Homo sapiens: one gene and its partner. The protein of the gene in region 1 purifies or fractionates together with the protein of each later gene. This does not show direct contact. Each region holds a gene or a part of one and is shown in the gene's direction. Other genes may lie near its edges.

The links.
Region 2: the proteins of LONRF1 (region 1) and KCNJ5 purify together in Homo sapiens (affinity purification with mass spectrometry; 2 studies listed by BioGRID and IntAct, with this or other methods). This does not show direct contact.

The regions. Positions count from the first base shown.
Region 1 is NC_000008.11:12,745,367-12,749,181, reverse strand, and holds part of LONRF1 (LON peptidase N-terminal domain and RING finger protein 1), read left to right. Parts: intron 1-3,815.
Region 2 is NC_000011.10:128,889,904-128,894,306, forward strand, and holds the start of KCNJ5 (G protein-activated inward rectifier potassium channel 4), read left to right. Parts: upstream 1-1,452; 5' UTR 1,453-1,818; intron 1,819-4,403. UniProt on the Homo sapiens protein: Inward rectifier potassium channels are characterized by a greater tendency to allow potassium to flow into the cell rather than out of it.

The DNA.
Region 1 (3,815 bases):
TCTTCATCACTTTGTTTTGAGATATTTTGGAATGTTATCAACAATTATTATAGATGGAGCATGTATGTCTTAGGTTTGGTGTTAACTGTTTAACATGCATTATCTTATTCAATCCTCACAGCAGTTATAAAATGTAGGTGTTTTAGAGGTAAGCATATTATAGGTCAGGAGAGTTCAAAGAGTTAAACTACCAAAAGGGGATCTGAACCCAATTTCTGAATCTAGTGTTAATGATCTTACTATCCCAAACTCCTACTCCTGAACATTCTTAATCAATGATCAACAGCTTATCACTTGGCAGCTTTGAGCTCAACCCTGGTAACCAAGTCATACTATACTGAACATAATGAAGCAATAGAAGCAAAAAAAAAAAATTGATATTCTGGTTAGCCTTTGAAAATTTCGATAGCTTGATATATAAATCTCAGAAAAAGACACTCAGAAAAATGAGAAAAGGAATATGAATAGAGAACTTTATACACAGCCCAAATACTGAATAAACACAAAGTTTTAAAGGTCAAACTTAATGAAGAAATGGAGGTTGTTAAAATTACGATGCTATTTTTAATTTATGTATTTCTAGCAAAGAGAAGAAACACAGCTTGTGGGAGTATAAAATAAAGTCTTTATAAAAGAAGGGTTGGCAGAATGTGTTGGAAATGTTGTATATCTTTATAACTTTCTAGGCCCAGCATGGTGGCTCATGCATATAATGCCAAAACTTTGGGAGGCCAAGGAGGGAGGACCACTTGAGCCCAAGAGTTTGAGACCAGCCTGGGCAACATAGTGGTACCGTATCTGTACAAAAAAATTTAAAAATTAGCCAGGTGTGGAGGCATGCACCTGGAGTCCCAGCTACTGAGGCTGGAGTATCTATTGAGCATAGGAGGTCGAGGCTGCGGTGAGCCATGTTAATGCCACTGCACTCCAGCCTGGGCTACAGAGTGAGATCTTAGATCTTTTCTCAAATAAATAAAGTACAAGCAATAAATAACTTTCTACATACTGTATAGCAAATAACTAAAAAGGCAAGCAGGTACATAAAGATAGACGTTTGTTATACTTTTTATACTGCCAAAAGTTGGAAGTAACTTAATTGCAGAGTAGGAAATTTTTAAATAGGTTGTATATATAGTAGGATATTTTGCAACTATTAAAAATCATGTGGACTAGTATTACATGGGAAAAAAAGCAGATTATAAACAGCATATATAGTATATTTTATAAAACTACATGTTAAAAATGTACTTTACACATAAAGAACAAAAATGTATGGGAGGCCGTTTGTTTTAGACTGACCTGCACTAGGCACCAGCAGACCAGACAGAATTAGAATGGAGGCCCTTGTGCTGAGTGCCACATAATCAAACTGAACTTTGAATTTGAACTGAAATGAGCCAGTTTTCTAAAAAAAAAAAAAAAAAAGAGAGAGATTTCAGTCAACCTGAGTTAGTGAAATAAGACAGCCCTCTCTGTTTTAACCTGTAAAGAAAGTTTTCAACTTTAAAACAACCAATCTACTTTTTGTCCCTTATTTCTGCTTTCTTTAAACCTTTTCTGCCTAGAAGGCTAACCTCCTCTGCTTAGCTCATTAGAAGACCCATTTTATAGAATGAGCTGTTGCCCATTCCTAGAATCACAAATAAAAGTCAATTCGAACCTTAAATTTGTGCTAATTTTTTCTTTTGTTAACACCAACACTGGCTATTTCTTTGTGATGGGTAAAAGATAGTTTTTACCTCTTATTTCTATATTTTTCAAATTGTATGAGTAAACATTTTTTAAGCTTTTGTGATTTGAAAAAAACTTTCTTGAAGGTGAACTAAAGAAACAACTTTAAGACCTGTTACTAACCATGGATCTCTAATGATTGGAACAAAGATAGAAAACCATGACTCTAGAATAGAAAACTCTCTCTTCAACCCATGAAATAAATGCTTTGGACAGCCGAAGACTAGATTCCTCAGATGGTGGAGCAGAGTCTTATTTAAATCTTTTTCCTTGCTGAATGACTTACAAATAATACTGGGTATAAAAGGAGAAAATGGGAACATGAATTGAGCTTAAGGAATCAAATTTTAATGAATTTTTTCTAATTCAGGAAACATTTATCAAAGCCAGGATCTGAGGATAAAAGGCAGGAAATAACGGAGGGAGTTCAAACATCTTTGAATTAAATTACTTTAATAAATAATGTATATATACGATGAAGGCACAGAATCATAATAGCAAACACGCCATGCTTTCAATGTACCAAGCCCTGTTCTAAGTACTATGCACCGATTAACTTACTCTCTAGAGTAAGCCTTGGGGTAGAGACTGTTACCAACATATTAATAGCATGGAGGTAAACAGCTAGAACTCTGGAGCTGGCTTCCTGAGTTAGAATCTCGAATCCACCAATTACTAGCTGTATGATCATGGGCAAGCTGCATATACTCTTCACTGTTTTCTATAAAAATGTGGACAATCCTAGATCCATGTAGAATTGTGCTGAAGATTGTAAATCATTTAGAACAGCACATAGTGGTGTTAATAATGTTTTAAAAGCCCCGGAATATTAAAGCTAAGGAAATTAAAGTACAGAGATTACTTGTAATTTACCCCAAGTCACAGTGAGTGGGTGGAAGAGCCAGATCATGCTCTTAGTGGTTATCATAAATTGTGGAGGAAGACCCAAAGCAAAGCATCTTGGGAGGAGACTGGTGAGCTGTCTTGCTGGATGATAAAAACTTATCAAGATAAAGAATGGTATGGTAAGGGAGGAGCTCAGCACAGGAATGAGGCATGAAATAGAATGGTGTACATGGGGCAGTGTGGGTAGTTAGGTATGGTTGGGACTTTGAGTGAGTGGGAAGGTTCATAATGATAATTAAGGCTGGAGAGATGGGCAGGAGCCAGGCATGGAGGAACTTGTACTAAATAATACCTGTTTTACCTTGTGAATGGTAAGGATATAGGTAGAGTAGAACTGAAGGCAGGGAGATCAGTGAGCAAGCTATTGCAATAGTATTAGAGATTTGGGGAGCCTAACCCAGGATTACTAGAGATAGGATTGGAAAAGGGGAGATTTGAGGAATATCATAGGAGGTGACATTTACAAAGTTGATTCTGATTTGGGAAGTTAGTGGTGTCAATAATAGAGAATACAATGAAAAATGCTTTTTTGGTGAAGAATGCTGAGTTTAGAAAAATTATGGCAGGCAGTTGGAAATTTGATGAATCTGAAGTTAGGGTGAAAAATCAGGACTAAAGATAAAGATCAGGGAGTTAAATCATGACAACTAGCACATCTGTCCCTGCTTCTGGTAGATATGGGTACAAGACCAGAGATATTAAGTGATTTAGAATAAGGTCACAGAGTTAAGTACCACAGTCATATTCAATACAATTAACCCAAACCATGTTGTCTTTGGATTTTGTCAATGTTGTCAAAATTTTGACAACTTTTGAAATTTTGTCGATTTCAAAAATGGAAAATACATAATATGCCAGGCACTTGCTGGGCAATACAGATACCTGCAGTAATGGAGTGAGCACCAGCATCTTCCCTGATGGCGTGTGCAGTGAGGTGACTCGTCTGTAGTGTCCTCAAGGTCACGTAGAGAGCATACAGTAAATACTTGTTGACTCTTTCAAACTTAAGTTAATGATACAGTCAGGACTGATAGCCATTTTGTTGTCTTTCTTGAAAGTTTACGTGGAAGGCAGACCTTGTGTATGCTTTTCAAAGGGGCTCATTTAGCGCACTTGGCGCTTAAGAATTTGAGATCAGTGTGATGGTCCTAATCTTTTTTTAAAAGTATTGGAAGTTT
Region 2 (4,403 bases), on another chromosome or scaffold:
TGAGTCCCCTAAGGGGACACAGAGCTTTCCTGTTAGGGCCTGTTGCAGCCACATTTAACAATCACCCCCTCTACAGAGAGAAGAGGGGCAATCAGGAGGCCCACTCTGGCCGGACCGCTCTGTGCTCTGTCCCAGGGGAGGGTGCCTGGGCAACGGGCTGTGTGTACGCTGGTCTCCGAGGCAAGAGGACCCCCAGGCCACTGTTAGAGACTAAGTTTCCCTGTCACTGTCCTTACAGGAGAGGATGGACTTGGTGCCCTCCAGTATTAGTGACAAGCATTTTTCTCATTGCAACGTAATAAACCAGTTTTCTGGTCGTAGACATCATTCACCTAGCACTTGTGCTAGGTGCTAGGGCACCCCACGTTTGACCAGCTGTGTCTGCCCTGAGAGAGGGGGCTGGCAGGGGGGGTGTTGACCCCAAAAGGCTGGGTAACGGAGAGGGGCCAGAAGGAACACCACCGGGTGAGAAGGGCCACCCCGAACAGACCGGTCCTCAGAGGCACCTGCCGGCCCTCCCCAGACAGCAGCCCTCCCTTTCAGCCTGCCCTGGCAGCTGCCTTTCCTACGGCTTCCACGAATTAAAGAACACACTCTGGTCATCATCTGTCCTCAAGGCAGGTAGGAATCCAAAAGGGAGAGCCGGGAGGTGGCGCGGAGGACGCCGGCTCTGCCCACGCCTGGGCAAGGTTGAGCTCCGTTCCCTCCGGGCTGCTCCCGCCTCCTGTCCGTGCAGGGCGCGTTTCCAGCCATCGCCGCCCAGCCGCCGCCGCACGCCGGGGAGAGATCGTCCGGGGTGAGCAGCGAGCCCGGGGACAGCTAGCCTGGGTCCTGTCCCTGGACCTACTCCCCCTGCAGCTGGCGGATCAGGCCCCCGGACCCTCACTCCACGGCGGGAATCAGAGCCGTCGGGCGGGGGATGCAGCGCCCAGACTGTGGCTCCCCCGCCTTCCCAAAGGAATCCCCCCATCTGCTCCATCCCTCTCGGGAAACGGCGAAATGCTGCCAACCGTCCGCTTAGCGCACCGCGGAGCGACTGAGCAGCCCCGCCGAGGCTCCGAGCCAAGATTTCTGCCCTAATAGTTTCTCCCTTCTTTCTGTCTGCTCCACCGCACCCACTAAATACGCGGCGCTCACACACGGACACGCGTGACACGCGGCGCTCACACACAGGCATGGGACGCTCACACGCGCGCGCGCGGGTCTCCGTCCCTGGCACCCCGCAGCAGGGGTGCAGCCGGGGGCAGGGGGAGCCGGGGGAGGGCGCAGGGGGCCGCGGGGACGCGAGCGGAGGGCTGGATGCCTGCCGGGCTCTCTCTCCGCCTTCCTCTTCCCTCCCAGTCCTGCCGAGCTGACGGCGTCCCGGATCACATGGAGCCCCCGCCCCACCCCAGCCCGCCCCCCGCCGCCAACGCCGGTGGCCCTTCCAGTCGCGTTACTACCCAGAGATTCATTTGTACCAGGGACGGAGGGAGAGAGGAGAGGGAGGAGGGGACACACACACACACACACACACACACACACACACACACACACACAGAGAGAGAGAGAGAGAGAGAGAGAGAGAGAGAGATTGTTCCAGCTGCTCTCGCTAGAGAAAGGGAGTGACCCAAGGGGCCGCGAGTGAAGGGACAGGATGGCTTAGGTACCTCTGCCCACAGGACCCCACAACAGGGAGAGGTTCCAGCTACAGCTCCTCCGTGGGGTCATGGCAGGGGCTGGGGAGTCCCCTCAAAAGCCCTGAGCCCCCCTGCACCGCCGCTAAGGGACACCCCAGAAGTTAGCATCAGTGGGACTCGGAAGCTCCGATCTCAACAAGTAAGTTGTCTTCTTTTCCTCCTCCATTTCTCCCCCAGCTCGCGGGTTCTGGAGGGCAGGATGACACCCTCAGGTGTCCATCACCTGGGCAGCAGGCTTTCACAGGGAACCTGCTAGACTGGGAGCCAGGGGGGATAAGGAAAAGCTTAGGGCAGGTCCAAGTTTAGGAAATTGGAGATCTCCGTGGCTGCAGGCTGCCCTGTGCGTTGGGAGCCCAGCCATAAACACCTTCACTTCTGGCACTAGACCAGGGCTACCTGGGGGTGCCCCAGATCTCCCAGCAGTGGTTTGAGAGGCAACAGTGGCCAGGAGTGGGTGGGGTGTGGAGGACATTTTTCACCTGGTAGGACTCTTCCTTCAAATGGGAGCAGGGAGGGCCAGGATGGGGGGCGGTGCCCCCCTCAGCCTTAGATCCCCAGCCTAATCTTGCTTTCTCTTTTAAGTGTGGCCAAACTGGAAACACGGCCTTGTGATTTCTGCCCCCCTCGCTGCCCAAGTCACTTCCTGCGTACCTCCCTATCTCCTTTTAAAGAGCTTTCAAATGGTTCAGAAAGGCCAGGGGTCAAGCCTGTGAGGACAGAGGATAGGGAACAGAGAAGGCCGGCCTTGTCATTGCTCCCCTTCTCTTCAAGTCAGTGCTTCTCCCTGCAGAGCTGTTGGCCCCCTGGTTTTATCTGTGCCTTCCCTCAAACAGGGCTCTCCAACCCCAGGGGCTGTGGAGGGCCTCAGGTCCGGCCCCCAAAGTTCTAGGGCCTACCCTGAACATCAGGGTGAGCAACACCAGCCCAAAACCTGTTCCAGGAGCCTTTTCAAACACCAGAAGAAGATCAACAGGAACACGCCAAGTATTTTACTCTGTTTCAATCCTTTTAATAAGCTGAGATTATCATCCTCATTCTACAGGTGAAAAATTGAAGCCCAGAGAGGCTGTGCAATTTGCCTCAGGTGCACAGCTCATAAAGGGAGATTCTCTCCTATATCTGACTCCAAAATGTGCCTCGTTTTCATCAAAAGCCATATGGTTTATCGGGCTTTCTGGTTCTCAAAGCACTTTTCCATGTGAGGAAAAGGCTAATATTTATGAAACCAAGGTGCCGAGCTATATACGTTTACATGAGTTCATCTTGACACCAGTCCTGTGGGGCAGAGCTTATTTCTTCTGTTTTATAGATGAGAGTAAGGGTAACAGAATTCCAGGCACTAAGTGGCAGCAGCACTGCTATCTCCAAAACTCTTGTCCTCTGGCTTTAAATCCAGGGTCTTTCCACTAACAAAAGCTAATTCTGAAAGCTGCTCTTGTCTTTCCACATCCCTGCTTTTCCTCAAAGCCAGGTGTAAATTGCATCATCTGGCTGAATGAGGCGCTCAGGCTTCCTGGAATCTGAGGAACGAACAGGGCAGAGCAAATGATGTGGGAGTTAGAGGCCCATGGTTGGACTCTGGCATAAAGAGTTTGGTCAGCTTGGCTGGTATTTTAAACTATCTATGGACCCCACCTGAGATGGCACCATTCTGCCTAGAGGCATAAGGCCTTCAGTGGGAGGCCTGGGGCACAGCGTATGTGCTTCTTGGAAGAGCAGCAGCAGGGCCACCATTGAAAGACAGGAAACAACACATAGAGAAATTGCTGGCTCAGGAGGCTGAGGTAAGGGGATTACTTGAGCCCAGGAGTTCAAGACCAACTGGGGCAACATAGCAAGACCCCATCTCAAAAAAAAAAGAAATAAAAAAGAAAAAGAAAGGATAGAAAATTTGCCTATACATTCCACAAAGCACAAGGATTGTCCCCAGAACAACGTTCTAGACCTACTACCTAGCTCTCCAACAGAAAGGGAACCAGCCACTCAGGCATGGCTGTTTTCTGGCCTCTCCAAAAGCTGCTATAAACTGCCGGCATTACTCACAGGCAGCATTTTTTAAGTAGCCTGCCTGTGCTCTATCCAGTGAGCAGTTCAGCTAAAGGAGGAGCCAAGGGTGAGGGGGGGGGTCAAAGCGAACCTGGGCCACATTCACTCTGCCCAGGGCTGTCCCCAAAGCTTAGCTGTCTTCTCTGGGATGAAGTCAGATCTTAGTGGGGTTCCCCACCATGGCTTCCCTGGAGTCTGCTGGCAAGTCCTGAGCAGTGCAGAGCTCTTTGTCTGTGGGTCCAGCAGAGACACGTGTGTGGCCCTGTCACAGCAGTACTCAGCCTCGCTGTCCCTGGTGCCAAGCAAAATCCCTTTGGGGCTTTCTGCAAGCACCTGACTGGGTTTCTTGTCCAGGAATTTGGGAGACTCTGAAGGCTGCTCTAGTCATCCGTGATGAAGTAAACCCCCAAGGAGGGAAGAAACGACTAGAATGCCCATTCTCTGGTTTCCATTTCCCCTTCAAATGACCTGATTCTTCCTGCCTGCGGTGGGCGAAGCCACAAACAGGTGTCCTGTGCTTTCATGTACTTGAAAACTGCATCCACTTCTGCATTGTTTTTTTTTTTTTTCTTGTTCAACAACCATTCATTTGGTCACCTATCATGTGCCAGCAATCATTAATTTTTGAAAACCTTGGAATGTGATCGTTGGGGCAGCGTTATGCTTTTTGTTTAGGAG